Linked DNA regions of Homo sapiens. The protein of the gene in region 3 purifies or fractionates together with the protein of the main gene of each other region. This does not show direct contact. Each region holds a gene or a part of one and is shown on either strand. Other genes may lie near its edges.

Evidence for each region.
Region 1: the proteins of STK17A (region 3) and GNL1 purify together in Homo sapiens (affinity purification with mass spectrometry, with the first as the bait; one large-scale study listed by BioGRID). This does not show direct contact.
Region 2: the proteins of STK17A (region 3) and GPATCH2L purify together in Homo sapiens (affinity purification with mass spectrometry, with the first as the bait; one large-scale study listed by BioGRID). This does not show direct contact.
Region 4: the proteins of STK17A (region 3) and ARK2N purify together in Homo sapiens (affinity purification with mass spectrometry, with the first as the bait; one large-scale study listed by BioGRID). This does not show direct contact.

What each region holds. Positions count from the first base shown.
Region 1 is NC_000006.12:30,547,467-30,555,489, forward strand, and holds part of GNL1 (guanine nucleotide-binding protein-like 1), read right to left. Parts: intron 7,726-8,023; coding exon 7,589-7,725; intron 7,450-7,588; coding exon 7,298-7,449; intron 7,181-7,297; coding exon 7,109-7,180; intron 6,092-7,108; coding exon 5,884-6,091; intron 5,714-5,883; coding exon 5,618-5,713; intron 5,196-5,617; coding exon 5,001-5,195; intron 65-5,000; coding exon 1-64. UniProt on the Homo sapiens protein: Possible regulatory or functional link with the histocompatibility cluster.
Region 2 is NC_000014.9:76,166,608-76,174,630, reverse strand, and holds part of GPATCH2L (G patch domain-containing protein 2-like), read right to left. Parts: intron 7,969-8,023; coding exon 7,904-7,968; coding exon of another isoform or gene 7,815-7,903; exon of another isoform or gene 3,433-7,814; intron 2,789-3,432; coding exon 2,612-2,788; coding exon of another isoform or gene 2,601-2,611; exon of another isoform or gene 1,086-2,600; coding exon 1,006-1,085; exon of another isoform or gene 1-1,005.
Region 3 is NC_000007.14:43,586,697-43,594,719, reverse strand, and holds part of STK17A (serine/threonine-protein kinase 17A), read right to left. Parts: intron 1-8,023.
Region 4 is NC_000018.10:46,178,163-46,186,185, reverse strand, and holds part of ARK2N (protein ARK2N), read right to left. Parts: intron 1-8,023. UniProt on the Homo sapiens protein: AMPK substrate important for exercise capacity and skeletal muscle function.

The DNA.
Region 1 (8,023 bases), on a different chromosome or scaffold from region 3:
ACACTCACGACTTTCCGCCCCACCAGCCCATTGATCAGCGAGGACTTTCCCACATTAGGGAAACCTGAGGAAGGCAAGGAAAATTAACGTTTAACAGGTTTCTACTCTGTGATGGGACTTGGTGCTATACCTATAGGTAAAAGGGGAACTAAGGCTCAGAAATTAAGGAAATGGTATTGCAGAATACAAATCACGCTCTGGGCTGCCAGGGTTAAATCCTGGCCCTTCCACTTACCAGCTTTGTGATGTCAGGGCAACTAACTTTCTGAGCCTCTGTTTCTTCATTTTACAGTGTGGACACCTCCCTACCTCAGGGTGGTCAGGATTAAATGAGATAACCAATACAACTTGTGTGGGTCAGTGCCTGCAGTACAGTAAGTACCCAGTACCAGTGATCCACATCTCATAATTACTATGACTTGGCCTGGCACAGTGGCTCACGCTTGTAATCCCAGCGTGATTACTTTGGGAGGCCAAGGCGGGTGGATCACCTGAGGTCAGGACTTCAAGACCAGCCTGGCCAACATGGTGAAACCCCATCTCTACTAAAAATACAAAAATTAGCTGGGCGTGGTGGTGGGCGCCTGTAATTGCAGCTACTTGGGAGGCTGAGGCAGGAGAACCACTTGAACCCAGGAGGCGGAGGTTGCAGTGAGCTGAGATTGCACCATTGCACTCCAGCCTGGGCAATAAGAGGGAAACTCCATCTCAAAAAATAATAATAATAATTACGATGACTTGTCCAAGGAGAAAACTGGAAGCCTTGGGGCTCACTGCCACTCTGCTCACTCACCACCACCAGTTTTTGTGTTTCTGGCTGACTTCAGTGCCTTCATCTCCCTTCCACAGAGCATCTCCTTTACCCCACCTCAGCTGCCCACTCCCATGGTAATACCTGCATCTTGTCACTTCACAGCTCCAAAGCCTCAATTCCAAGCACCCCTCTCTGCCCTGACAACTCATCTTTCCAGCTCACTTACTCTGGTTACTCCATGCCAGTAAGTCTTTGACCCCTGACCTTAACACAGTAACACTATGCAATACCCAACTCGTGTCCTCAATTTCCTTCTTACTTGACTCAGATTTCATGATCCAGCTCCTCAGCCAGGCCCGTTCACAGACCTGGAACTCCCTGGTCCCACTTCTCCCCTCTATCTTACTCACCTGGCAAAATCCCAACCCTGTAAAATCCAGCTCTGCCCATTCAGCACTGCTCCTGGGCAGCTGACTGTGGCTAAGAAAAGATGTACCACTGTGCTCACTCTTTACAACACATGCAAGTATCTAGGAGGAAGGGAGGGAAGGAGGGAGAAAAAAGTTCTCCTTTGACGACCACCACCAGACCTAGTTCTCTGTCCGCTTTGCAGGAAAACTCCTTAAAAGACTTACCTACTTTTTTCACCATTTCTTCCTGCTATCTTCTTTGTAACTGTAAACTACAACATACAAAAAAATGCACAGAACATACATGTGCAGCCTGATGAACCCCATACCACCCAATGTGTGACAACATGTTCCATCTGTCCTTGTTTTTTTTGTTTTTGTTTTTGAGACAGAGTCTCACTCCCTCACCCGGGCTGGAGTGCAGTGGTGCGATGTTGGCTCACTACAACCTCATCCTCCCAGGTTCAAGCGATTCTCGTGCCTCAACCTCCTGAGTAGCTGAGACCACAGGCGTGCGGCTCCACACCTGGCTAACTTTTTGTATTTTTAGTAGAGATAGGGTTTTGCCATGTTGGCCAGGCTGGTCTCAAACTCCTGACCTCAAGTAATGCGCCTGCCTCAGCCTCCCAAAGTGCTAGGATTACAGGGATGAGCCACCATACCGGCCGCCACTCATCCTTCTTGATCATAATCCTCTCCCTCTATACATGCAAGCTTTATCCTTTTAAGGAAATCAACTCCTTACATTTCTCTTTAGTTTATGACCTGTGTATCTCTCAACAATGCAGCTTAATTTTGCAGCTTTCAAACTTGATAGAACTGAAATTGTGCAGTATGGATGCTATTGGGTCAGACTCTTTTCACACAATGTTATGTGAAGTTGTTGCACCTTCTCTCATGGGCCTACTCCAGTTTGGCTTTCTCCACCCCACTGAAACCACGGATCTTCACATTGCCAAGCCTGCTGAGCAGCTCTCTGTTCTCTCATTTGGCCTGTCAGCAACAGTTGACACAGCTGATTCCTCCTTTCCTCTTCAAACACCTTCTTCATTTGACTTCTGGGACGCTCCCTTGGTTTTCCTCCTTCTCACTGTCCTTTGCCCAACTAAATGCTGGCTTGTCCTAAGGCTCAGTCCTTGACCTCCTCTTCTCCAACTATTTCCTTTCTCTCCTACATCTCATCCAATTCCATGGCTTTTTTTTTTTTTTTTTTGACGAAGTCTTGCTCTGTCACCCAGGCTGGAGTGCAGTGGTATGATCTTGGCTCACCGTAACCTCTGCCTCCAGGATTCAAGCAATTCTCCTGCCTCACCCTCCTGAGTATCTGGGACTACAGGCACGCACCACCACACACGGCTAATTTTCTGTATTTTTTGGTAGAGACAGGGTTTCACCATGTTGGCCAGGCTGGTCTCAAACTCCTGGCCTCAAGTGATCCACCTGCCTCAGCCTCCCAAAGGGCTGGGATTATAGGCATGAGCCACTGTGCCCAGCCTAATCCTGTGGCTTTAAATACCACTTATATCCATCAATGGTTCCCCAAATTTAAATCTTTCCCAAATTCAAATTTCCGTCCTCTTCTCTCCCCTAAGCTGCTGACTACTTACCCACTGCCTATTCAACATCTCCACTAGGGATATTTAAAAAGAATCTGAAATTTCATTTCTGATTCCCCTCTCCTCCCCAAAGCCTTCAAATCTGCTTCTCCCCCAGTCTTCCCATCTCAGTATTTCCAGTTGCTCAAGACAAAAACCTGGAAGTCCTTCTTTATCCTCACTTTCCTTCACGTGCCAACTGCAAGCCATCAGCGATCTCATTTTCTCTACCTTCAAAATATATCATGCTTCCGGCCCTGTCTCACCACCTCCAGCTCCAGCATCCTACTCTAAGCAACTCTTATTTCTCTCCTAGATTACTGAAATAGCCTCAACTGCTCTCTCTGCTCCCTTTCTTGCCCACCCCCCATCATTTATTCTCTACTCAGGAGGTAAACTTATAAGAAACAAAATCAGATCCTATCATTCCCCTGTTCAAAACCTACCCTTGGCTTCTCATGAGACTTGGAATAAAATCCAAAATGGCTGTCACAGCCTCAGGGCTCTACATGATGTGGGCCCTGGTGATCTTGCTGACCTCATCCCCAGTACTTTATCCTGGCTCCCATACTCCAATCCCCTGGGCACTCTTGCTGGTCCTAGAATCTCCAAGCCCGTTCCCTCCTCAAGACCCTTTCCCCACAGTTCTGAATGGCTCACTTCATCTCATCATCCAGTTCTCTCCTCAGGGAGGTTTTCCCTGAGCACCTCTCCTCTCAGTCACTCTCTATCCCCTTTCATTGCTTTATTGCCTTCACTGCCCCTACATGATTTCGGATCACAAAATCTATTTACTCACAAGAAAATAAGCTCCATGAATCTACAGACCTTTTTGCCATTTCCACAGCAGTATGTCCCATCCCTAGAATATCTGGCACCTGGTTAAGTGTTCAGTACATATTTGTTGAATGGGTAAATGAATGAGAGCTGGAGGGAAATCCAAACTCAGGGGTGCCTGTGCCACAGCAAACACTCTCCCTCTCACACCACCTGGAATAGAGATCAGCTAGAGCAGAGGCTGCTAAGAGAGGGAACAGAGGCTCCTTGTGACAGGGAGACTAGGATCAGAAGTCAGGGAAGGGACAGCCGGGTGAAATGACTGGAAAGAGGAGCAATCACTCAGCAGTAAGGCAGGTTCTTCCAAAGACAAAAAGGACACAGAGATAAGTCAGGGCACTTCCAAGGAACCCAACTACCTACTCCACACTCCCAAATTTATTCTGGGTTGGGCCCTTTTTGGTTCCAATATCACCTCAGATACCATAACTTGTCCAAGGTCTCTTCTTACCTCTCCCACCCTAAATGAAGACGGGCCCTGGGTCCTAATCATACATTCCTTTTTCCTCCACTGTGAGCTGAGACAAAGCCCTTAAGAGGAGATTCTCCTTGGCAACAAACTTAAAGGGTTAAAACCTAGAAGAATACTAATTCTTGCTGAGCTCCTACTATGATTTGATAATCACTGTACTACAGACTAATTACTACAATTCAAATGGTTTATATAAACCACTTAAAACAGTGCCTGTTACATAGTAAGCACCATATAAATACTGAGTTTTAACAATAATAATTGTTATTATTGTTATCACTATTTGTCAGGCATTCTTACACTCTCTTAACACTATTCCCATCATTCCTCACATCCATTCTTTTTTTTTAAAGACAGGGTCTCTATCAGCCAGGCTGGAGTGCAGTGGCACAATCATAGCTCACTGCAGCCTTGAACTCTTGGGCTCAAGTGATCCTCCTGCCTCAGCCTCTGAAGTAGCAGAGACTACAGGCACATACCACCACACTTGGCTAGTTTTCTTTATCTTTTGTAAAGATGGGGTTTCACTATGTTGCCCAGACTAGTCTTGAGCTCCTGGTCTCAAGCAATCCTCCCACCTCAGCCTCCCAAAGCGCTGGGACTATATAGGCATGAGCCCTCACACATGGCCGTCATCCATTCTTTTACTCAGGTATCAATGTCCTTATTTTTAAAATCAAAGTAACTAAGACTCAGAGTAGCAAAATCACTTACTCAAGACCTCACAGCTGAGAAGAGGTGGAATTTAACTCAGGCTGTCATGATCCTTCCACTGCAGCAGACGCCTCTTCTGCCTTGCCCACCGCCACTGGCAGAGATCACCCCTCAGACACCCTGGGGCCTAATGAGACCTGATCGCCCTCTCTCTTCTCCGAATATGAAAACTCTGTACCTCCTTGGAGGCCACCACGCACAAGCTGCCACTTCCTTACCCACACAGCCGATGGTCACCACCCCATCCTTGTAGCGCTCTTGGGTTGGGCCAGTTGGCTCCATTGCTGAATCAGTCTGCTGCTCCACCAGGACTGCTGGGCCATCCTCCTCTTCCTCCTCCTCCCCAGAGCCATTACCCCAGGTGGCCCCAGCCACATCCCGAGCAATCTTCTCCCGCCAGCTGCTCAAGTCCACTGCTCAAAGAAGGAGAAGATTAAAGAGGTTCTCCCCAGGGCTGCTGTGCATGATGGCACATACTGTGCCCTGCACAGATTATGTAACTGGCACCCTCTGGAGTTGTACAGTGCCAACCTAAATAAGAGCAGGTCAGAGAATCTCCCAAAAGTCATTTGACCCTACCCTCCCTGGAATCACGCACGTTTCTCTGAGCTTCTGAAAAGTACTGGGAAGGCTAAAGGCAGCAAGCCACTGAGGCTCCTGACTACCTGCTGCCTCTCGTCCCACCAAGTCAGTCTGCTCCTTATTCTGTCCCTTCCCCTGGCCTCTTGCACATATCCACCATAGAGGGGTTGGCTTCAGGAAAGGTGAGCAAAATGATTCTGCATCTTTGGTCTCCCCCATGTCCTCCTACAGCCCTCCTCTAAGGGCCACATACCTTTCCCCACAGTGATGGCTTCACAGGCTCTCAGCAACTGCTCTGGCCCCAGGGCCCGAGTCCATCCTCTCCCCCGCCTCCGACTCTTCTTCAAGACTGAGATCAGAGGGCACAAAAGGATGGGCACACGGGCTTAGGCCTCTCATCTCTCCCACCACCCTTAGGCCCAAGACCAGGTGCCCCCTTGTCAATAAGCCTCTCTGTTCTCCCCTTTGTCCCCTGCCAACTCACCTCTCCCAAGTTGCCCTCTCTCATTGCCCACTCACCACTACTAGGGTCCTGTGGGGTGCGGGGGTCCCGAGGAAAAGAGGTGAAAAGGACGACGTGGAGCTGGGGATAGTGTTGATGGAAATAATGCTTCCAGGCAACCACAAGAGCTGGCGGGGCCAGATCCACCTTGTTCAAAACCAGCACCAGGGCCAGTCCAAGTTCTCCAGTCACATACTCATAAAGTGCTGGCGGGAAATTCACAACCTAGGACAGAGTTGATAAGAGGATGGAGCAGTGAAAGTCAACCCAGAGTTCTCTGCCTCCAGCTCCCCACTCAGCAGGTGTAGCTCAGAGACAAGGCCCTGGTGGTAGCAGACTCTGGGCTAAAAACTATAAACCAGACAAACTGAAAAACAAAGACAAAACAGGGGTTAGTAATACTTCTGAGTCTCAGAGGGCTTCCTATAGGTCATGATTAGAGATGGAAATGAACCCAAAACAAGACAAGGAAACAGCATCACTTAGCACACTGAGGTAAAGGCTGGGATCGGAAACAGGGATGGGGGTTAGGGTAGAAATTAGTCTGCTTTTTTGTGTGTGCACAACTATGTAAGTGTGTACACGTGCATATATGCATGCATGCAAGTACGTGCACATGTGTGCATGTTTGTGTGTTAATGTGACTGTGAACATGTGTGCAAACATGCCTGTGTATATTGATGTGCACATGATGTACGTGTGAGTATGTGTGTGTACATATTATTAAGGACCTCCAACCTAAATGGTCCTCACAGACCTCCCTTTCTCCCACTGGAGGACAAGAGTGAAGTTGCAGAGCTAGGATTCACACAGGGCAGTCCAGCAGCAGTCTACAGCCTTAACTACTACTCTAGCATTCCAGGTGGGTTCTGTAGCAACTGATGTGGCAGTGCTAGAGAAATGAGATAAGGAAGAAAGGGCATCTTTGGGCTGGGCAGGAGGAAGTCCCCAGCTGCATTCATAGAATCCCTGGAGCTCCAACACTTGGATTTTCTATTGGTCTGTGATGAGCTAAAGGACAGGACATGGCTGTTTTGAAGAGAAGAGTGAGCTGGCCAAGGGAGGAATGACAGGCTATAAGAGAATAAAAAACTGAGTTCCTAACTGCGGACATCAGCACTAGGTAGAGATTAGAAAGACAGGAAGATAGATACCTCTCTGTCTCCCAACTCTTGCCTCTGACCTTTGCCCCTGAAAAACCTTTCTCCCTCCTCCTTGCCCACCCTTATCCCTAGTACTCACTGGATGTCGGATATCAGTGATAAGCAGGACGATGTCAGACATCTCTAACACCCGCCACAGCTGCCTCCATGTCTAAAAAGACAGGATCAGGAAGAGAAACTGAAAACAGAGTCCCTCTCCAGCCTGATCCCAAACCAATTTGACCATAGGTCACTATGCCCCACTCCTGTCCCTAGAGTACACTGTCACCTCCAGATTGTGCTCAAAGTAGCTGAGTTTCTCAGAGGAGTAAGCCCCATGAATCTTCCCAAGATAGTCTTGGAAGCTCCGTTCCTCTTGGCTCATTAGTTGCTCCTTGGACATCTCATAGCTCCAAGGAGGACGTCGAGGAAAGTCCAGAACTGGGAATTCAGGAAAAAGTCCAAGTGTGAGGAAATCTTCAGGATTCAAGAGTACATCCCAGACCCCTCCTTCCTCACAGTCGGCTTTTACCTTTCCAAACTCCTTCCCCAGCCCAATGCCTGTCTTGCTCTCACTCACCTGAGCCAGGCTGATACACCTCCCGGATGTCCAGCTCCAACAACTCAGCACTGACCGGCTGTAGAACTTGCTCCCGGGCTGCTCTCTTTCTCCTCTCTACCTCCTCCCTGCTGTCTCTCTCAAAATGCAGTCGGTATCTAAGGGAACAGGGACCGAGACATCCAGAGCAATCCTGTGGCCACAAACTCCTATTTTCTCCCCTCTTGTACAATCAACTTCGCAAACCATTCTCTCCAGAGTCGTTCAAGTCTCCTCTCTCAAGTCAGACTTCCCCCAAGTCCTTCTTTCAGGCAATACTCAGCCTTCTCCTTCTAAAAGCCCAACTCTCTCCAGCCCCTCTGGAAAGGAAGACTGTGGCCCGCTGTGGGGAGCCGAGTGGCTAGCGGAGAACTGTGGCATCCCAGGCCCACCGTCTTCACCAGTAGCAGCCCGCTT
Region 2 (8,023 bases), on a different chromosome or scaffold from region 3:
ACTTGAATTTAAAGATAAAAAGAAATAAGAATCTTGGGCTCGTCTGGAAATAAACAGTCTCATTTCTTTTGCATGCTTAAAACTTCAGAAAACTGTTCCCTGGTCAGACTATAAAACAGTATCCCCTTAAGGGAAGCCAGACTGTGGCACATATTGTGCCACCTAGCAGGCATTCTAAATGCTTACCAAGTGAACAAACAAATTAATGCTCTCAATGCCTCTCCCTTCCTTATTCTTTGCCCACCACCATCTTCTCTGACTGAGGATGAGCCCTGTCTTAATTTATTCCTCAATCTCAAAGTAGAGTAAAAAATAAAATTCAATAAAAATGTAAAAAGATAAAAGTAGACCTGGGTTCAAATCTCTATTCTACCATTCCTATCTGGGTAACATCAGACATTCCTTAACTTCTTCGAACCTAAGTTTTCCTCATCTGCTGAAGGTGCTTGCCCTTGTAGGTTGCTGGAAGGATTAAATGAGCTGAGTCCCTAGTACCATCCCTGGCAAAGGCAGAACTGAATAAACAGCAGATAGTTCTCCCTCATGGCCAAGGAGGGGCTCTTGAAACTCAGTAACAGTTTTGTTTTTTTTTTTTAATGAATTCTAGGATGAAAGACCAAAATTAGGAAAGAACAAAGATGCATTCATGAATTCAAGAGGAGTCATAAAGAAGCCAAGAGTATTTTAACTTACACAATAATAACATAACATTAATCAAAAGTTACAGAAGACACAGCTCAGGCTTGTAGGTTTACAGGCAATAGACACTGTAATGACAGTGTTTTTTTTTTTTGTCAGTACTTCTATATGAATTACGTTTCATCTTTTATTTGTATATCCATTCACATTCTACATAATGTTCACTCTTGTAAACTCCCAACACATTCCAGTTGGCTCCATTAACTTCAGGGAGTTCTGTAGCACCTCTGATTGTTAATAGGATACACAACTCCCATAGGGAATATTATCTCCCCACTGAGCCAAGCTAACTGTGAGAGGTATCACCTTCCCAACCAGCCTTCTTCGCCCCTTTCTGAGGCATCGAGCTGCAGCTCCAGGTAGACGATTCAAGCGAGTATGGTACCCTAAAAAAAGAAGGAAGGCCTCAGATACCGAATGCAGAAAATCCATATGCAATCCTATGTTTCTAGTACACTGAAGGCTTTACCCCCAGGATCTTAATAGATTGACCTTTAAACTAGCATCACAGAGCTATTTGCCAAGGATTTATTATTCCCAGGTCTTTGTCACTAGCAGTATGATCACAGGCATGCCATTTACCTTTGACCTAGGCATCCTCCATCTATAAAAGAGGGATAATCACTCAGTCCTACCTTACTGGGCTGTTTTGAAGACCCAATGAAATAGCAAGCAGAAGGGACTTTATAAACTGAAAACACCACACAAACATAAGGTACTATTAATAATTTTTAATTTAAAATTAAATGTTAGTTTGTACGTCAAAAACATTCTAATTCATGACATAATGGGGAAAATAGCACGTGTCGGATAACCCAATTTTTCTCACTGCTGCATGTGTTCTACACAAGGAAAGAACAACTGGAGGAAACCACACCAAAATGTTATTAATGAGATTGTCTCTGGATATGAGATTATAGGCCATTTTAAGTTTCTTCTCACTATTCTTGCTTGTTTGTATATATTTTAAGTGGTCCATTAGAAACTTTTAGAAATGTTCATCAAAATGTTCAATAAAGCAATGTGTGCCTCAGCTAGTCTTTACCAAGCACCAACTGCTGGTTCGCCATGACAAAAATTCACCATGACAAACAAAAATTCACCATGACAAAATCCTACATAATACAAGTTTACATCTCGTAGTGTGATTCTGATCACCCACAGATGTTCAACAAACTCTTGGCAACTGATTAACTGGTTGATTATGGGTTACTGGGAACCCTAGAATCATAAATTTATAGTGCTAAAAGAAATGGTTTTGTCCAATGTCACATATCGTAAGTGATGACCCTGTCATCCCAGGAAAATGCAGTGACTATCACAGAGCTTGGTAGACAGTATCAGAGTATTAGCACCACATTTCCATCTCTCTGTCCTAGGTTCTTTCCACCCACTTTGCTACATCATAATTGAAGAAAAAGCAAAGGGAAAAGGAAACATATTTGTGTTAAAGTCCCAATAGGGTCATTAAAATAAAACTACTTAAATTATTTTAAAAGCATCCGTTTTAAAAACACCATTATATGTGAATACTCTTACTGAAAATAAGAATATGTATGTGAATGTTCTTATTGAAATCTGTTCTCTTCCAAAATCCGATACTCAATAACCTCTTAGTTTCACATCAGGATAAGCAGCTGTCACTAAATCTGGCACAAACGGCAATGGCAAGCTGAAGGAATCTCCTGATAATATATATGTCCCAGGAGTTTCCATGGATTAGTTTAGGAAGGAATGGAGAGAACCTTAAGCTTTGAGACTTACTTTGACTCCTCTAGAAAATCCTTGAGCTAGCTCCAAAATTCAGATAGTTAATGTGTGATTGAAGGCATGAGTATGCTTGCTAGGGGGTGATTGCTCTGCCCAAGGAGAACCATAAAAGCATTAAGTTCTTGGTCTCCTCAGAACTCACCTCTTTGAGCTGGCCGAGAAGGTAAAAGGAATGTGGAATCTGAAAATTTATCCAATCCAGAATCCATTCTTTCTACTTCAGAACAATGATCAGGAGCCCACTTGGGCAGAAGATTAGGGACAGTGAATCCTGGGACACATTCTCCTTCATAGAACCAATCACTCTGTTCGTCATCACCTAAAGTAAAGACATCATATCATAAGCTAGAATTTTAAACAAGGTCTGAGAAAAACAAATGGGAGGGATGATTTCTTAGTGCCATAGTTTTGATCATCCTTTTTTTTTTTTTTCCTTTTTGAGACAGAGTCTTGCTCTGTCACCCAGGCTGGAATGCAGTGGCGTAATCACATGTTCAGGCAATCCTCCCATCTCAGCCTCCCAAGTGGCTGGAACCACAGGCTCATGCCACTATGCCTGGCTATTTTTTTATTTTTTTGGGGATGGATTCTTGTTCTGTTGCCTAGGCTGGAGTGCAGTGGCGTGATCTTGGTTCACTGTAACCTCCGCCTCCCCTCCCGGGTTCAAGCAATTCTCTCTGACTCAGCCTCCTGAGTAGCTGGCATTACAAGCGCCCGCCACCATGCCTGGCTAATTTTTGTATTTTTTTAGTAGAGACGGGGTTTTGCCATGTTGGCCACGCTGGTCTTGGACTCCTGACCTCAACTGATCCACCCGCCTCGGCCTCCCAAAGTGCTGGGATTACAGGCGTGAGCCACCGCGCCCAGTCTTTTTTTTTTTTTTTAATTCTCTGTAGAAACTGGGTCTCCTTATGTTGCCCAGGCTGCTCTTGAACTCCTGGGCTCAAGCAATCCTCCCACCCACCTCAGCCTCTCAAAGTGCTGGAATTACAGGCTGATTATACTTTTAAATAAATCAAGGCATTGTTCTGGTCCTTCTTGATTCATTTTACAATGAAAACTGGAACACCAACCTGGTTTCACATAAATGTCATACTGTGTTAGACTGGACCGCTTTAATAGCTAAAAATAAATAAATAAAGCTACCACTCACTAAACCCTTACAACCTACCAGGATCCATGCTAAAAATCTGTAAATATGTCATCTCTTCCAAGCCCTACACTAACTCCAACTTACAAACAAGGCAACTAAAGCCTAGAGAAGTCAAGGTCAATTTAGTAAACAATGAAGCCAGGATCTGAACCCAAAGCCTGACTAACTCAAAAGCCTGAGATCTTTATTACAAAAACAAACTGCCTCCCCTATACCATTCTCAGTGGTATAAACTTGGAGGTTCAAAACCCATAAATGTTTCTCAATTCAAAGCTAGCTATACCTGAGGGATTTCTTGCTATATTTGCCTTTATCATAAAAGGTGAATAAAGAATATATGTCCATACTTCATTTATCGTTGGTATCTCATTAATGGGACAGAAATCATCTTGACACTAGAAATCCAAGCTACTGCGGAAAAAAAAAATAACCACAGCAACAAATAACATAATCCCCTAAGGCTTTTCAATAAGTTATACCATTTTCCCAAGGCCATTTGTTAATTAACAGCAAAGTCACAACCAGATCCATATATCCAGACTGTTGGTAGTACAAACTTCTTTCTACTGGCTATAGTGATAGTATCTCAGTTTCCACTAGAGTTTATTCCTGCCAACAAAGAATAGATAATTGTATGTCTGCCACCACATACCCCTTGCAAAATAGCAAAATTGAAGGAAATTATTACAAGAATATCTAAAGAGTTCATAATGTAGTCAGTCTCTAATGTACACTGGATTCCAGACAAGTTGCTCAGAAATGTCAATCCCATGAAGTATGAGATTCATGGGTCATTAACACGCAGGATAATAACTCTTAAATCACTGTGGAGATCTCCAAAATGGGCAATGAAAACTGCATTCTGGTGAAAAGCAGGAGATATTACAACTAAGAAAGTTACTCAAAGTGTTCCCTTATAAAAACACACCACAAACAGCTGTCTCTCTTACAGTAGTTCTCAACTTTGAGCATGCATCTGAAGCAGCAGGAGGGCTTGTTAAAACATGGACTGCTGAGCCCTTACTCCAGAGTTTCTGATTCTAGTCTGGGCAAGACCAAAAATGTGTATTTCTAACAAGTTCCCTCATGATGCCAAGCTGGCCTGGGGACCACGTTTTGAGAACCGCTACTCTAAAAGCATCTCACGAAACCAGATACATAGATGAACTGAATACAGGCATTAGTGTATAATAACTAGTTTCTCTGTACTTCAATATATTAATTCTTTTCTTATTCATAAGCATTCCTTAGGCCATTTATTGAAATAGTATATTTAATTAGGCCATGTTTTCTGACGACAAATGGCAAACTATAATGGAATTTTTTTGGTTCTCAAGCAGTCATTCAAGATTTTTAATAATACAAAAAGGGACTCCCTGAACTAGAAGGAACGTTGTGAGACCACATAGACCAGCAGTCTTCAATCAGGGTTCACTAAGATGCCTGATAGAGGAGCTCCTTAAAAGAGCGCTGCCAGGGAATAAGCAAGAAGCTAGGTGGATCGGGCTCCTGACCTCTGGCTCCTCTAGAATTTTGCTTTAAACCAAATAGGCTTAGTTGTTTTACAATCTGAGAATCTATGTTCGATTTTGTTTGGGGGAAAAAAAGGAGAGTTTTCCCCTTAATTGGATTATAAATAATTATTTATTAAACATTTACTATATGCCAGGAACATGCTAGGTACTGTGGTTGCACATAATAAGTCCTGCCTTGAAAAGCCTCAAGGGAAAAGACTCGTACCTACAAACAATAACATAATCTAGTGAGTAGTAAAAGAAACAGTAAGTATAATACAAGGAGCCACAGAGAACAAAGGAGAAAGGGCTATTGGCCAGAACCCCCTCAGCAAACACATGGCACATTTAAATGGGGTCATTGCAGAGATGTAATGAAGTGACTATTCACAAAGGTGGAGACAGTACTAACAAGGAACCCCACAAGGGGATAGTGAAGCACATCAGGTGGAGCCAGCACAGCAGGAGGCCCTTACCATTCCTAGACTTGGAGTGGCAAGGGAAAGAATGGTTATCAGAACCCAAAGAACTGTGGTTATAAAAGAAGGCTGCCAAACAAGAGTGGTGGCCCTCAGCAGAGGAACACAACCACTGCCAACCAGCAATCCAACAGAAAAGGTGTCAGGGAAAGCAATAATCTAATGTGGTAGACTGCATTAGCATTTCCAAGTACTCTCTATAGCAGAATCATCCATCCATGACGTTTGCTCTTTGCCATTGGATTCCACAGTACCTTCCCTTTTAGGAAGAGCACACTTACTCATCCTACTGACTCTGGGCTTGGTCATATGACTTGCTTTACGTAGTAGAAAATTAACAGATATGATTCAAGCAAAGGCTTTAAATATGTACTTGTGGTCTAGCCTGGTCACCTGGCATTTACATCCTCTGCCATAGGAAGTCCATGCCGCCTATCATCATTGCTCCTCCACCCTAGGTCCCAAAATACAATACACTGAGTAGATGTAAACCTAACTTGAAGCCTGTAGACCAGTGGAGCCCAGGCAAGATCAGTGGAACCACAGACAACTCACAGCCCCATAGCAAGAAATGAGTATGGTAAACTGTGAGAAGCCACTAAAATTTGGGGGCTGTTAAGCAGCATTACCACAATAAATACTTGACTAATATATCCAATATCACTCACCTCCCTCCCTTTGGTCTTCTGTTGATGCCTCCTATAGGCCAACCCCAACAAGAAATTGAAACCAAGAAGACCCACTGATATAGTTCATAAATATGCCCTTGCAGGGGCAAGAGGAAAACTGTGTCTTGGTAGATGACCAGTCATTCAAGGAAGATGAGGATGAGATTTCAGGCAGAAAGACCAGCATAAACAAAGGCAGAGAAGCAAGAAATCCCATAGCTTTACGTTGAGAACGCTAAGCATCAATGTCACCAGAATGTGTGAAGCTGAAGCAGAGAAAGAGAGGAAAGCTAGGTGTACAGAACATTCTATAATCTCTCGTGATAAACTAAGGAATCCTTATCAGTGAAAAGGCTTTCCAAAGGCCCGAAAATCTAATCTGCTGTAACAGGTCCACACTTTCTTCCATCTCTATACTTATGCATCATAGCCTTTAAGAGGTGCATTTTGATATTCTTAGCACTGTAGAAAAGCAAAGAAAAAGAGCAAATATTGGTAACTCTGAATAGTATATATAACTCATTCATGGAAACTCATCAGACTTTCCTGGTATAATAAAATCAAAACTCTAGTTACAGCCTACCTGTACACACACACACATAATCTCTAATGACACCTAATTCCCTCAGAATCTAAAAGATAGAAATGTACTCACAACAACCTCCATTACAGTAGGAAGCTCAACAACTCCAGGAGGATAAACTGCCTCTATGCCTACAACTTCGAGGCATGAACAAGATGCTGGCCCCACAGTCCTTCTCCAAAAATCAGGACTTGGATGCTAAGTCTCACAGCCCCAGTATCTCTTCAGTTACTGGGGAGCCTACTTGGATCAACCTAGACATGTAGCCACTACGTCTGTCCTTTAATTGCTTAACCCGTGGAGAAAAATTATTGGACTTCGGAGTGAGAAGAGACTTTAGAAATCCCTAAATCCCTTATTTAGATTAAGAAAACCACAGTCCAAAAAGGCTACATAAAATTTTTATTGGCATGTGGCCCCACACAAGTCTAGAGGACAAACATTTTCTAAAATACCCTTATATATAGGCAAAGTTTTAAATTAGTGTTTAGGTAGTAAAAATAAAGAACTGGTAATTAACTATACCAGCCTTATTCACAGGACTCTATACTCCAGTTTTACTTTGAGGAAGATGATGTTTTATATAATATATTCACCTAGGACACTATAATCATTTATAAATAAGGCTACAAAAGTGACAAGATTTTCTCTATATGAAAATAATGTCTTAACACCTAAAAAAAGACAGTAACACATGAACCTATTTCTTTATTCTAATAAAAAGAAACTTCCCAATGTCCCAGGCTCAACACTCTGACCACCTAGACCAATGATTCCCAAGTCTGATCTACTGGCATAAGAATCACTTCAGGTGCTTGTGAAAAATGCAGATTCCAGGGGCCAACTCTAGACCTATTTGATTTCTAGGAGCTCAGGACTGTGCAGTTTTAACAGTTCCCTAGGTGACTCTCATATGCCTTAAAGTTTGAGAACCACTGCCATAGACAGTCACCATATTCTCCATGAGTCACTCCTATGATTATTCAAATATTTCCATAAACACGGAACCAAGGTCCCAAAGCTGGGATCGACATTACCTTGTCGCCCTTCATCATTGGTAAAGAGCCCAGTGTCACTGCTGCTACACACACTGCTGGTTTCACTGTAAAAAGAGTAAAACACAAGAGAACTCATCAGCTCCAGTCAAAAACAAAGCA
Region 3 (8,023 bases):
AGAATTAAAGAATAATATATTTCAATTGCTTAGCATGGTACTTGCCACACAGTAAGTGCTCAATAAATATTACTAATCACACAAACATCATTAAGCTGTGATAGTCATCACCCGTAAACATCCACTGAATCCTTAGGTTGAAAGACAACTTAGAAATCATACAGTATTTTACCTAACACCAAATGCCAATGTCTTATTTCAAACTGTGAGGTAATCTTTTCCACTACTGGGTACATATTATCTTAATAAGGTCTTCATTACAAGCCTAAACCTGACTTCAGTTGAAGGGTTACAGTCAGGGTCCTCTGCTGAGCAGTACAGACCAGACCTCACTCTCTTTTCCACATGGCAGTCTATCAGATACTGAACACAGCAAACACCATCTGTTAGCTGCCACTCCCTCTTCCCTTTCCCAATTTGCAATCAATCCCCATCCCCATGGGTTTTTTTTTTTTCCTTTAAGAGACAGGGTCTCACTCTGTTGCCCAGGCTGGAGTGCAGTGGCACCATCATAGCTCAATGCAGCCTTGGACTTCCGGGCTCAAGTGATCCTCCCACCTCAGCCTCCTGTATAGCTGGGATTACAGGCACATGCCACCATGCCCACCTCCCCATAAGGTTGACTCCCTATTATGGCTCAGCAGAAAATGTGCCAACCAAATCTGAAGCAACTAATCCAGGTATAATCGATCAAAGCATTACATCATTATTATTTTTGTTGCTCCTGGAACAATACAACCTAAGATTGATTGTTAAAAAACTTGACATGTTTTCATATTTCAAATTGGGCTGATAAACTACCTAGATTTTTTTCCACCTTGAATTTTTATCAAGTCAGTATCCTCATACTATATTTTAAAAATGATTGCTAAAAAATTTGGAATAATCAACAGCATAAACAGACAACCTACAGAATGGGAAAAAATATTTGCAAACTATGCCTCCAACAAAGGGATGATATCCAGAATCTACAAGGAACTCAAAAAACGAGAAAAAAAAACAACCTCATTGTTTTTTTTTTTTATATGAACAGACATTTTTTCAAAAGAGCAGCAAACAAACACATTAAAAAATGTTCAACATCACTAATCATCAGAGAAATGCAAATTAAAATCACAATGAGGTACTGCTTTACAGCAGTTGGAATGGCTATTAGTAAAAAGTTAAAAAACAACAAATGTTGGCGAACATACAAAGAAAAGGGAACGCTTATACACTGCTGGTGGAAATGTAAATTAGTTCAGCCACTATGGAAAGTAGTTTAGAGATTTCTCAAAGAACTACCATTTGACTTGGCTATCCCATTACAGGGTATCTGCCCAAAGGAAAAGAAATTATTGTATGAAAAAGACACCTGCACTCATATGTTAATCACAGCCCTATTCATAATAGCAAAGATACCAACCTAAGTGTCCATCAGTGGATGACTGGACTAAAAATATGGTGTGTATATGTATCATGGACTACTACACAGCCATAAAAATGATGTCTTGTGCAGTAACATGGATGGAACTGGATGTCATTATCCTAAGTGAGATGACTCAAGCAGGAAGTAAAAAACTGCCTGTTTTCACTTTTAAGTGGGAACTAAATGGATACACAGGCATAGAGTGGAAAAACAGACCAAACAGTAAGAGAGTGGGAAGGGGGTGAGGAATTAAATACTACCTATTGGGTACAATGTACGCTATTTAGGTGATGAGCACACTAAAAGCCCAGACTTCACCATGACCCAATATATCCATGTGACACAAATGCACTTGTACCCCTGAATCTATTTTTTTAAAAAGCTTTCTAAAAAATTAAGTGCAAGGCTTTAATTGCCCTGTTAAATTCTTTTTTGTTGTTGTTTTTGAGACACAGTCTCGTTCTGTCACCCAGGCTGGAGTGCAGTGGCACGATCTCGGCTCACTGCAACCTCCGCTTCTCGGGTTCAAGCAATTCTCATGCCTCAGCCTCCTGAATAGCTGGAATTACAAGCACATACCATCATGCCCAGCTAATTTTTTGATTTTTTTTTTTTTTTTTTTTTAGTACAGATGGGGTTTCGTCATGTTTGCCAGGCTGGTCTCGAACTCCTGGCCTCAAGTGATCCACCCACCTCGGCCTCCCAAAATGCTGGGATTGTAGGCATGAGCCACCATGCCTGGCCTGCCCTGTTAAATTCTAACTTCTAGGCTTTGATCTAGCATTCTAGACTACTGACATAATTTTGAGTAATTCTTCCTTCCCAGCTATTGTTAACTGCAAATATAATTTTCATGTCCTCCATGTTTTTATCATTAGTAATATAAATGTGGAATGACAAATCCTTAAGCATAGCCCTATGGCTGTTCAATTTGGTAACAACCTACCTAGCAGCACCCTTATTCAGATAAAAGTTCTTTTGTTCACAGAAATATGAAAGACTTCTACAGATATGGGAGAGAGTAACTATAAATGAATTCCTCAAAGAGTAATTAATACCTTTCATTTTATCCCACAAAATCATTAGGCTAACATCTCCATCAAGTTTTAAAAGGTTCCCAATGATCTCTGAATTCTTTTAAGACAGAAAACAATTGTTATTAATTTGATATTTTCATACCTACATGTCTGAAGTTTCAAGAGAAGAGAAAGTTTAATTTGTAAAAAATTCGTCTGAAATGAAGTCTCAACATATAATTGGCAGCAAACATGTTCCTGGTAAATTAGAAATGACTCAGTAGAACGGCCCTCAAACACATATCACACACACAAATGTTTACTGTTGCCACACCTGACATTCAAAGCAATAAAGTACTGTGCAGTAAGTAAAAAACTACTTATTACATAGCCTGAAAGTCTATTTTTAAAGACCAAATGGAAAGACAGCTAATTCAGCAAACAGAATTGGAACTCAAAATTATGTCAGTAGTCTAGAATGAAAGATCAAAACCTAGAAGTTAGAATTTAACAGGGCAAATTAAACACGGACTCACACACATTGCTAACCTGTGAACTGTGGGAGCCCTGTTACAGAACAGCCATTGCTAAATTCTGGGGCCTCTTCCCCATACTTATTCATCTGTTGCTCATGCTCCTCACCCATTCCTTTAGGTGCTAGAATGCAGTTCCCACGGCTCTCCTTTCATATCAATGACTACACTGACACCACCTTTGTTTTTCTGGAAACATTCCTCACAGTTCTAGATTTATTCTTTTCTTTCCAACATATCCTGTACTATACTAGGGTCAGCAAGTTTTTCTGTGAAGGGCAAGCAAGATGGTAAATATTTTTGGCTTTGTGGACCAGAGGGTCTCTGCAGCAATGACTCAAGTCCACTGTTGCAGAACAAAAGCAGCCATACAAGAAAGGTAAATGAATGGGTATGTTTGGCTTCCAATGAACCTTTTACACTGAAATTTAATTTCATAAGCTTTTCATGTTATTAAATATTACTCTTATTCTAATTTTTTTAACTATTAAAAAATGTAAAACATAAAAAATGTAAAAACAGCTTGCAAGGCTTTCAAAAATAGGTGGCTGGCTGTAGTTTGCTGACCCCTGCTCTATCCTATGCTGAATAAAACTCTTCCATCATTCTAATACCACATACCACTGAAACTGACATTATGACAGCAGGTCGCAATGATTTGAGGAAGCATGCATGCCTTCATCTCTAAATGACTGGTGCAATGGGAGGGGGACCCTTCAAACCACTCAAGGAGGAGTCAGAGAAGATAATAACGGATTTCTTGGAGCTGTTCTACACAGCCACATTGTATAAAGAAAACAGGAGATTCAGCATTCAAGCTGCAAAGTCCCAGTGTATATGCTCAGAATTACATTGACAGAGTTCCCTAAATTCCATACCTCAAAAGGGCTCCAACATGCATATTTTACCATGACTTTATGGTAAAAATTGTGACTGTACCTCAACCTTTAACTTTAGGTTATTGAGTCCTCTACAAAACATTTTAAAAATGATGTTTCCCTGACATTATGGGCCATGGTTATATACAGCTCTCTTGGGGCTGATGAGGTCCAAAGGGCATAAGATGTTTGTTGCACATCTACTTTTTTTGTTGACTCAAAAGCCAAACTTCTTCCTGGAATAAACAGTTGCCATAATTTTCAGGTATATTTTTTCATTTCAAAAACATCTATATTTTGCTAATAGGTACAAAACTGAGAACTTAGGTTTTCATTAAATATTTTGGGATGAATATCAGAAATGAATACATTTCAGAACTACTCACTGAAAACATATTCCAGAGAGGTGGGAAAGGTAAGATACATAAACAATTATAACAAGAGGAGGTGACATTTGATTGAGACCCACCAGTCCGAGCTCCCTAAGTCCTTTGCATTATCAGTGCCTAAAAACACTGCTTAGGGAGACAGGGTGAGTATCTTTAGGTAGGTATGTTTGCTAAGGAGTTTGGGCTTCATCAGGCTTAAAACTGGAACCTATTAGAATACTGAAAATAATTGTTTAGAAAAGATAATTCTGGTTGGGCACGGTGGCTCATGCCTGTAATACCAGCACTTTCGGAGGCTGAGGTAGGCGGATTGCTTGAGCCCAGGAGTTCGAGACCAGCCTGGGCAACGTGGCGAAATCTTGTCACTACAAAAAATACAAAAATTAGACAGGCGTGGTTGTGTGCACCTGTGGTCCTGGCACTTGAGATGCTGGGATGGGAGGATCAGTTGAGCCTGGGACATCTAGGCTGCCGAGATCATGCCACTGTACTCTAGCCTGGGCAACAGAATGAGACCCTGTCTCAAATAAAATAAAATAAAATAAAATAAAATAAAATTAAAATTAAAATTAAATAAAATTAAAATAAAATTATAAAATAAAATAAAACAAAACAGGTAATTCTAATAGTGTTGTGAAGAGTGGATTGCCAGTGATAACTAGAAACAGAGAGGCCAATAAAATAATTCAAAGCAGTAGGTCTGCACTCAAGTACCAGCGTAGGGACTGGGAAGAGAGAATATGTTTAAAAGACACTCAAAGTCAAGATTTATTAGCACTCCCTGGCAGGTGTGAGTTGTACGCAGAGATGAGAGGAGAAAGGAAAGGTGAAAGTCATGGATGACTTTTAGATTTTTAATATAGGTACTGTGTAAATGTGGTACCAGTTATAGTACTGTGTAATGTGGTAGGAGTTATAGTTGGACAGAAGGTTGAGCTGCCTTTTTTGGTAAAGAGAATCCCATTTATTGAAGGGATTCCAAATACAAATTCAAGTGTTGGATTATAAGCAAAGGTGAAGAGATAATAGAATATATAACATTCAGGTAAACATCAGAAAATGCACATGCTAATTTGAGCAGTACAAAGGGGAAGTAAAATAATGTCCAAGGTCCTGTTTTATTCTAGGTTAAAGTGCTTTGTTTATACCTTTATTATATTTATGTCAATCTTATATATTACAACTTGTTGTACTATGTCTCCCAGCTGGACTGTGAGTTTCAGGGACCTCACTTATTCTTCATCTTTTTATCTCCATAGTGCCCTGCACATGGCAGGTGTGCAAATATAATCAGCACACCTAGTATATATACTGCTTATTATTTTGTTAAATAAAAGTTTTATGGCAACTTAACCTCATGACATTTAATATACTGGACTACTTGCCATTCTCTCTTCACTGAATTTTTCTACTGCTCTGACTTGCTGTTTTATTGACAATGGCAACTACTACTGAAATTCCATCCATTCTTTACAGCCCAACTGAAATGTTATTTCCCCCATAAGACCTTCCAGTGGCATATCATCTTGCCTATAAAGGGGACAGTGATTGATCTGTTACATTTGGGAATAGCTTCCAGAGCCTAAGGTAGTGCTTTTATGTACTTGATACATAAGTACAGTATTTGCCTAATTACACTGGAGTGATGTCTTTTTTCTTTTTTTGAGACACAGTCCCACTCTGTCACCTAGGCTGGAGTACAGTGGCACTATCTCTGCTCACCACAACCTCCACCTCTCAAGTTCAAGGAATTCTCCCGCCTCAGCCTCCCAAGTAGCTGGGACTACAGGTGTGTGCCCAGCTAATTTTGTAATTTTAGTAGAGATGAGGTTTCACCATGTTGGCCAGGCTGCTCTCAAGCTTCTGACCTCAAGTGATCCGCCCACCTTGGCCTCCTAAAGTGCTGGGATTACAGGTGTGAGCCATGTCTTAAACGTAAAGAAGTTCCATTCAGGAAAAACCTAGAATGGATTTTGTCTTCCTTATCGCTGAAAGGACCAAGGAAAAGACCCTAGGCGTAAAAATCAGTGAGTCCATTCAAATAAGACATTAGCATGCGTGATAAGAAAAGGCAGGGCCTTACAAGTCAAACTTGGTTTTAAATTCTGGCTAACAAGTGTGTAATACTGGGCAATTTATTAATCCTTTGGAACCTGGGATTCCTCATCTGTAAAATGAGATCAATGGCACTTTACCATACAGGGCAGTGAAGACTATACAAAATTACATCTTTAAAGTGTGTAGCATTCAGCAAATGATCAATAATCAGTGGCTATTTTTATTGTTTTTGGCATTAATTTCAGATCTATGATATAACCAATGATAATAATTTAAAAAAAATATCAGAACAGGAGTTCTGGAGGTGAGCTATTAAGTCTACATAATGTGTAAATTCTCTCAAGAAATCTAGTTAACTTCTTACTTACCTGAAGAGGTGACTATAGCTACTTAGCTTTCTAATGCATTTGGTTCAATAATCATATTTTATAAAATTGTGTCATCTATGGTTTTATGAAAAGATTAAAATTCAAATTCTTACATTCATGTATTTTAAATTAAGATTTTAACATTTGAAGCATGAACTTTTCAAAATTAAACAGCTGACTGACTTAAAGTACCTGCCTAAGAGCAGAAGCCATACTTTCCAAGTAACTTTATTGTTGAACCACAAATATGGCCAATTTTCTTTTATCTATCCAAAGTATCAGATTACCCAAAACTGTTTGTAAATAAAATTCTTCAAACTAATGACTAGCTGTCAAGAAATCTTAAATAACATCTGTGTTAAAACAAAGCAATTTCTGCATGGATATTACTTAATAAAGGTCTTTATTTGTTAAAAAATGATAACTTATGACACACGCTTAAGTTCTTGTCAGATACAAAAACTGAAGCTATTACCTACAGCCATCAATCTAGGTAAGGACACACAGTCCCCAAAATACCCACCCAGAGTCCCCTTTCAGTTTGAATATTCTCTTATTCTCTGATAAAAATCCTCTCTTGTCCCTATTACCCCTGACTGCTCTGAGGAGAATGAGATAGGACATCCCTAATTTACTTTAAGGCCCCAGTGGGAACTTAACTATATGACACTGAAGCTTGGTCATGTTTGTTCCAATGTAGAACTCATTAACAGATCCTTTCCCCTGTCTCTACTAAAAATACAAAAAATTAGCCAGGCATGGTGGCAGGCGCCTATAGTCCCAGCTACTCGGGAGGCTGAGGCAGGAGAATGGCGTGAACCCAGGAGGCGGGTCTTGCGGTGAGCTGAGATCGCGCCACTGCACTCTAGCCTGGGCGACAGAGCGAGACTCCATCTCAAAAAAAAAAAAAAAAAACAAAAAACAATAAAAACATATCATTTCATTAAAATGACAGGAAATTGCTTTAGTCATAAGATACAGACTACAAATTATTCTTTGAAAAACATGTGTGGTGTAATGGGAATGATTTCAAAGTCAGGAGTCCCAGCTCTGTTATCTCTCACAAGACTTTTAAATCTGTCTTTGTTTTCTCATCTGAAAAATGGGGCTTTCCAAACAGGCTTGTGGTGAGAATCAATGAGATAATGCATGTGAAAGCACTTGTAAAACTGTAAGGCCTGCACATTATAAAGTACCTGTTTCAGATGGGAACTTGTATTTGTAACTTTTTTCCTTAGGAAAATCCAACTATTAGCATGTACTAATATTTTTAAAGTGTTCTTTTGGCTTAAAATATTTTTTTCTTAAGAAAAAATTTATCGGTATATTAAAAACATTAAAGTTGAGGACTAGATAATGAAAACAAATGTAAG
Region 4 (8,023 bases), on a different chromosome or scaffold from region 3:
TGTCCATCTTTAAAAACCACTCTCCATAAACTTTTAAATCAATCAATAAAAATAATAAAATAAAAACACTCCTAGCTCTTTGTGAAAGTTTGCCTATTCTATACCTAAACACTTCAAAAAAATGCCCCCCCTCCCTGTCCAAAATGCCCAACTTAAGGTATTTTCGAAGTTTTGCCTGTTTTTTTATTTTTATTCTTTGAGACAGGGTCTCACTCAAGCTGCCCAGGCTGCAGTGCAGTGGCACGATCTCAGCTCACAGAAACCTCCACCTCCTGGGTTCAAGCGATTCTCCTTCCTCAGCCTCCTGAGTAGCTGAGATTACCAGTGTAAGCCAGCAAGCCCAGCTAATTTTTGTATTTTTAGTAGAGTCGGGGTTTCATCATGTTGGCCAGGCTGGTCTCAAACTCCTGACCTCAAGTGATCTGCCCGCCTAGGCCTCACAAAGTACTGGGATTACAGGCATGAGCCACCACGCCCGGCCTTACCTGGTTTTTTAAACAAGAATTGAGGATAGGGAATATGCAGACTGGAAAACAAGAGACAAATTGCAATGCATGAAGATAAAACTAGAATGAAGCAGGGCTTTCAAACATTATTGTGGACCTACTTCCTGCTGGCTTTAGCAATTGTCACAAAAAGACTTAAAAGTTATTTCAGTTAGACAAGTTGGCTAGCACAGTAGAGAGCTATGACAATGGTGGAAGACAATCACAATACTAGTAATCATCCAAGAAAATTAACACCTAACAATTATTACCTGATTTTTCTGACTGTGGCACATGTGCACACACAGAGCTATCAGAGGAAATTTAAGCCCAAGAAGTTAAGAGTTAACTTTATACATGAGGGAGGAGAATAAATAGCACACTATGAGAAAGACAACTGAAAAGAAACAAATTATGCACCTAAATGTTTTTACTTACTCCCTCAGCCCTCTATGTTGCATCTCCCATGAAAACAGGGATCATGTTCAGTATCAGTTCACTCACAGTTCCTAACACATAATCAATATCTGATATTTGTTGAATTGATCAACTGAATCTTTTAAACCAAGACCACTAATGAAACAACTTGTTTGCTTAAAAGTACTATTCATTTGTATATGAAAATACATTCCATTACATAGAATCAACATGATTTCTCACAGAGTAACTTCCCTTTTCTTTCTACATAAAACCTAAGACAAAAACTGACTCAACTGCTAATAGCCTAGTAAAGCTGTTTCCTTACATTTAGAATACTGCATTTAAAGTGATTGTGTGTGTATACGCAAATATGCAAGAATCAGGCACTATGAAACTAAGTATCTTTGGCTACATAACCACAAAATGAGGTAGAAAGCAGTATCTTACTAAAATTCAAATGAAGGCCCCTCTCCTTACACATTCAATTCTATGAAGAGACTCCATTGCATTCATAATACTCATCTTCCTAAATCTTTGTTGTTGTTGTTGTTGTTGTTAGAGACAGGGTCTCACTTCTATCACCCAGGCTGGAGTGTAGTGGCACAATCACAGCTCATTGCAGCCTTACCTTCCTAGGCTCAGGTGATTCTCCCACCTCAGCTTCCTGAGTAGCTGGGACTACAGCCGCATGCCACCAAGCCAGGCTAATTTTTGTATTTTTAGGAGAGACGGAGTTTCACTATGTTACCCAGTCTGGTCTCAAACTCCTGTATTTAAGCCATCTGCCCACCTTGGCCTCCCAAAGTGCTGAGATGACAAGTGTGAGCCACAACACCTGGCCATAAATTTTGGTTTTCGAGGCCGGGCGCAGTAGCTCACGCCTGTCATCCCAGCACTTTGGGAGGCCGAGGCAGGCAGATCACAAGGTCAGGAATTCGAGACCAGCCTAGCCAACATGCTGAAACCCCGTCTCTATTAAAAATACAAAAACTGCTGGGCGCAGTGGCTTACACCTGTAATCCCAGCACTTTGGGAGGCCAAGGCAGGCAGATCACGAGGTCAGGAGTTCGAGACCAGCCTGGCCAACCTAGTGAAACCCCGTCTCTACTAAAAATACCAAAAATTAGCCAAGCGTGGTGGTAGGCACCTGTAATCCTAGCTACTCAGGAGGCTGAGGCAGGAAAATCGCTTGAACCCAGGAGGCAGAGGTTGCAAGTAGCTGAGATCATGCCACTGCACACCAGCCCGGGTGACACTGTGAGGCTCCGTCTCAAAAATAAAATACAAAAATTAGCCAGGCATGGTGGCACACACCTGTAATCCTAGCTACTCAGGAGGCTGAGGCAGGAGAATCGCTTGAACCCGGGAGACGGAGGTTGCAGTGAGCTGAGATCGCGCCACTGCACTCCAGCCTGGGCGACAGAGCAAGACTCTAACTCAGAAAAAAATTTTTTTAAAAATTTGGTTTTGAAGGACTTCTTTCAATTATTTGCTGGGATTTTGAGTCAGTTTTCCCACCAAGAAGCTGCAGCATAGACAATGCAGACAATGCAAGAACCAAAGATTAGGACTAAAATAAAAAACACTTACAGAAATACAATATAGTAGAAAGAGCCCTTTTCTCCACAGCAACTCATCCCTTCCCTTAATCCTCAAAAGAAAGAAAAGTTTGAAGAAGCTATAAACAAGCATAAAAGACTCAAACTAGGACTGATGAGAGAGGATGCCCCATTCAGAGTAAGGAATTATGAGTAACAAATTAACACAACTGGGCAACGATCACCAACAGCTACTAACATCACAGGGAACCAAATATTATGCACCTACTGATCCAAGTACCATCTATAAAGTATTCCCCTCATCCCCTGCAAAAGAAGCAAGAGAAAGAATATATATTATAGAAACAATCTGATCAAGCTTCTAAATCTAATACCAATTAACTAGAAACCCAGGGGTCAGAGAAAAACGTTTACCACCACCACCACAGAAATCCAAAGGAATGTAACTGCTAAATCCACACTGGGAAAACTTCTTTTGTAACTAATAATCTGCTAGGGAAAAGAAATGGAGGGGGAACCTACAGATTACAAAACAATGCAGAGACCTTATTTGGCTCTTGATCTGACACATTTATGAGATAAGAGGGAAATCTGAACACTGACTATCATATTACATTAAGGAACTCTTCCTTTTTTTTTTTAGTGTGGTAAGTTTTTCGGTTTTCTTTCCTTCAACAGTGAAGCTGACTGGGAAACTGGAGTGCTAAAAAGTTAGAGTACAGAAAGGGAACTCTAATATTAATACAGCTGAATGGATCTGTCCATAATGCACTGAATTTGGCCTACCCGGAACTTAAATATAAATTGTGAGATTGCAACCACCAGAGATCAGCTTTGCTTGCTTGCCAGCCAACTTTTTCTCCACTGATATAAACTCTATAAATAGGTCAAAGGTGATAATGGCTGCTCAAATCACTTCATATTGCAGATATTACTACTTCTGGCATGTACCTGGACCTGCACCAGGGCTGTGAATAAACTAGCATCAAGTAAGAAGCCAAAGAAGTTATCAAATGCAAAAAAAAAAAAAAAAAAAAAGCACTGTGGCTAATGACTCTCTAAAGTACTCAAAAGCATCATCAGTGTAAATCAAGAATAATTTAAAACAGAGGTTCTTTTAATTTTTAAAAATAATTTTTTAATAGAGACAGGGTTTCACTTTGTTGCCCCGGCTGGTCTAAAACTCCTGGGCTCAAGCTACCCTCCCAACTCTGCCTCCCAAGGTGCTGAGATTACAGGTGTGAGCTACCATGCCTGGCCCTAAAACAAAGGTTCTAAATTTTCTCCAAGATTTCTGCCCTGGTCATTTTCTATCTCCTTCAGAAGACAATTCACATAAAGATGGATAACCACATGCCAGGAACTGAGGTCCCAAGATAAAAGCTGCCAAAATTCTCTCCACTATACACACCTTCAGGCTCACTGCAAAGTGCTTAGTTGATTTCAGCAGAGAAAAATAGTAAGAAACCCTTGACACTAAACTGTTGATTTAAGAACAAGCTATGATTCTATGCTAGGTTAAAACTAAGGCAGACAGGATACTGCTTAAAATTTTAACCACATGAAGTTTTTGTTCTTAATACAGAAAGAAAAACAATCCTGTTTTCCTTAAATTTTAGTCCACACCCAACTTCCCTATCCCCGACAATACCTTTCTCTAATTATAAGGCACCTAACAAAATGCAGACTCCAGACATTATTGTAAAGGTCATTTTTTTAAACTAGTCAACTCAGTAAAAAAATAACTTCTACTGGTCACTTTGGTCAGTATCTTGTTTCTCTAATGCTAATTATGCTAATAAAAACTTAATTTCAGCCAGGCACAGTGGCTCACATCTGTAATCCCAGCACTATGAGAGGCTGAAATGGGAGGATCACTTGGGCCCAGGAGTTGGAGACCAGCCTGGCCAACATAGTAAGACCCCATCTCAATCAATCAATCAATCAATCAAAATAAACTTAATTTCTAGACTACCCAAGCACAATTCTAGTTTTTTGTTTTTTTTTGAGACGGAGTCTCGCTCTGTCGCCCAGGCTGGAGTGCAGTGGCGCGATCTTGGCTCACTGCAAGCTCCTCCTCCTGGGTTCATGCCATTCTCCTGCCTCAAACCTCCCGAGTAGCTGGGACTACAGGTGCCCGCCACCACGTCTGGCTAATTTTTTGTATTTTTAGTAGAGACGGGGTTTCACCACGTTAGCCAGGATGGTCTCGATCTCCTGACCTCATGATCCGCCGCCTCAGCCTCCCAAAGTGCTGGGATTACAGGCATAAGCCACCATGCCTGGCACAATTCTAGGTTATATACATTCTTAGGAATGGCTGCTCTAAGTTTTAACAGATTTAATGTTGTTTCTCTCTGAACAACAATCAGAACTTAATACATGAACTTGAATTACAAGCAAATGTATTTTGTAAATGAACTGGCATTACAAAAAAACGACATTTCCCCCCCCACCTCCCGAGAGGGAGTCTTGCTCTGTTGCCCAGAGCTGGAGTGCAATGGCATGATCCCTGCTCACTGCAACTTTCACCTCCCAGATTCAAGCAATTCTCCTGCCTCAGCCTCCCAAGTAGCTGGGATTACAGGCGTGCACCACCACACCCATCTGATTTTTGTATTTTTAGTAGAGACACGGTTTCATCATGTTGGCTAGGCTGGTTTCGAACTCCTGATCTTGTGATCCACCTGCCTCGGCTTCCCAAAGTGCTGGGATTACAGGCGTGAGTTACCATGCCCAGCCCAAAAAACGACATTTAAGTTTCCAGCCTTTTAAAGCTTAGAGATACCAAGAAAAATGCTATTTTCTAATACCTTATTTAAAATGAATTTATAAGGGAAAACACTAGTTCCATACTACAGTTGTTTTGTTATGCAGTACTTTTTTCCCTTATAATCTACTTTCTCTTCTCCACATTTTAGAGCAGGAAGGAAACTCAGAAATCATCTGGTTCACTAGGTTGAGTTCTGTGGGCAGAGACTGCTTGCTTGTTTTGTTTTTATTGTTGTTTTTTTTTTTGAGACAGAGTTTCCCTCTTGTTGCCCAGGCTGGAGTGCAATGGCACAATCTTGGCTCACCACAGCTGCCTCCCAGGTTCAAGAGATTCTCCTGCCTCAGCCTCCTGGGTAGCTGGGATTACAGGCATGCGCCACCATGCCCAACTAATTTTGTATTTTTAGTAGAGACAGTGTTTCTCCAAGTTGGTCAGGCTGGTCTCAAACTCCGAACTTCAGGTGATCCGCCCGCCTCGGCCTCCCAAAGTGCTGGGATTACAGGCGTGAGCCACCGTGCCCTGCCCCAAACTGCTTATTTTATGTGCCCATTACCACCTGGCATGTAAATGCTCAGTAAATGGGTTTTTAATTTAACCAGGTATAAATACCACATATGCATTAAGTCCCTGCTGATAGATTTCCACTTTAGATTAATTGTCACTTAACTAGAAAATACTCATTTAGGTAGGTTTTAAAATTATTTAAAGTCAAGTTAATAATTTAGGAATTTACACCATCTACCTATTAAGTGGCAGAGTCTGAGCAAAGAGGAATGAGGTCCCTTATTTTGAACAGACATGAAAGAGAACAGAAACAAAACTTAAAACACTGTAAATTAAAGCCAAAATTCCTAACAACTAATCAAACAACTTATCAAATCTCAGTTATATTGGCTACTTTAAAGTATTTTAAAATCACATTTACTATTATCAGCTGCTACAAATATGTTCCGATAAATCTGTATAACACATAGATCACATAGTTTCCTCTCCTAGCAGTTCAGGAATATAGAAGAGAACTTTAGGCCGGGCGCAGTGGCTCACACCTGTAATCCCAGCACTTTGGGAGGCCAAGGCGGGCAGATTACCTGAGGTCGGGAGTTTGAGACCAGCCTGACTAACATGGAGAAACCCCTTCTCTACTAGAAATACAAAATTAGGCAGGCGTGGCAGCACATGACTGTAATCCCAGCTACTCGGGAGGCTGAGGCAGGAGAATCGCTTGAACCCAGGAGGCGGAGGTTGCGGTGAGCGGAGATGGCGCCATTGCACTCCAGCCTGGGCAACAAGAGCGAAACTCCGTCTCAAAAAAAAAAAAAAAAAGATAACTTTAAAAAAGCAAGATTACTTTTTAGTTTCACCCTGCTCCTGCTCCTTACTTTTACAAGGCCCTGTAGGCTGAGTGTGAAAACTGACTGACTGAACATCAATCCCACTTCTGCTGAGAGAAGCTGCCCACACAGAAGTAAAAAACACTGCTTCTTTAAGTGGAATCATAAGAGTTCTGAAAAAGTAAGGAAAAGAGGTACAGGTAAAGGCTAAAAGGATTCAGAAGAGTATCATGACAACAGTCAAACTCAAAACCAAGACTGGAAATTGACAACTAAAGAAAAATAACTATCAGATTTATTTAATCTGATGACCAAGAAATCAAAATAAATAAACCAAACTAAAATAAATAAAACCAATAAAATTTATATTCACTGGGCTGGGCTCAGTGGCTCACCTCTGTAATCCTAGCACTTTGGGAGGCCAAGGTGGGCGATCACTTGAGGTCAGGAGTTCAAGACCAGCCTGGCCAACAGGGTGAAACTTCGTCTCTACCAAAAATATAAAAAATTAGCTGGGTGTGGTGGCACGCGCCTGTAATCCCAGCTACTCGGGAGGCTGAGGCAGGAGAATCACTTGAACCCAGGAGGCAGAGGTTGCTGTGAGCAGATATCCTGACACTGCAGTTCAGCCTGGGTGAAAGGGCAAAACTCCATCTCAAAAAAAATTTGTATTCACTCAACTTAAGGATAATAAAGAAAAATATTTTTGTTGTTTTTTTTTTTTGAGAAAGAGTCTCAGGCAGTGGCATGATCACCACTCACTGCAGCCACAAACCCCTGGGCTCAACTGCTCCTCCCATTTCAGCCTCCTGAGTAGCTGGGACTACAGGCGTGTGCCACCACACCCAGATAATCTTTTAATTTTTCTGTAGAGACGGTTCTGCCATGTTGCCCAGGCTGGTCTCCTGGGCTCAAGCAATCCACCGGCCTCAGCCTCCCAACGTGCTGGGATTACAGGCATGAGCCACTGCACGTAGCCCCAGAAAAATCTTTAAAAAGTTATGTCAGGGCCAGGCATGGTGGCTCCCGCCTATAATCCCAACACTTTGGGAGGCCGAGGTGGTGCATCACCCGAGGTCAGGAGTTCGAGACCAGCCTGGCCAACATGGTGAAACCCTGTCTCTACCAAATACAAAAATTAGCCTGGCATGACGGCACATGCCTGCAATCCCAACTACTCGGGAGGCTGAGGCAGGAGAATCACTTGAACCCAGAAGGTGGAGATTGCAGTGAGCGGAGATTGTGCCATTGCACTCCAGCCTGGGCATCGCAGTGAGACTCTGTCTCAAAAAAAATAAATAAATAAAAATAAAAGGAATGCCTATCTCATTCTTCACATTCTACCTGGAATTCTTTCCTCCAAAAAGAAGAAAATTCCCAACCCATTAGCGGACTAATAAGGTACCTTTGCAACTTGGCCCTATCTCCATCTGCCCTATCCATTCCTTTTGAAAA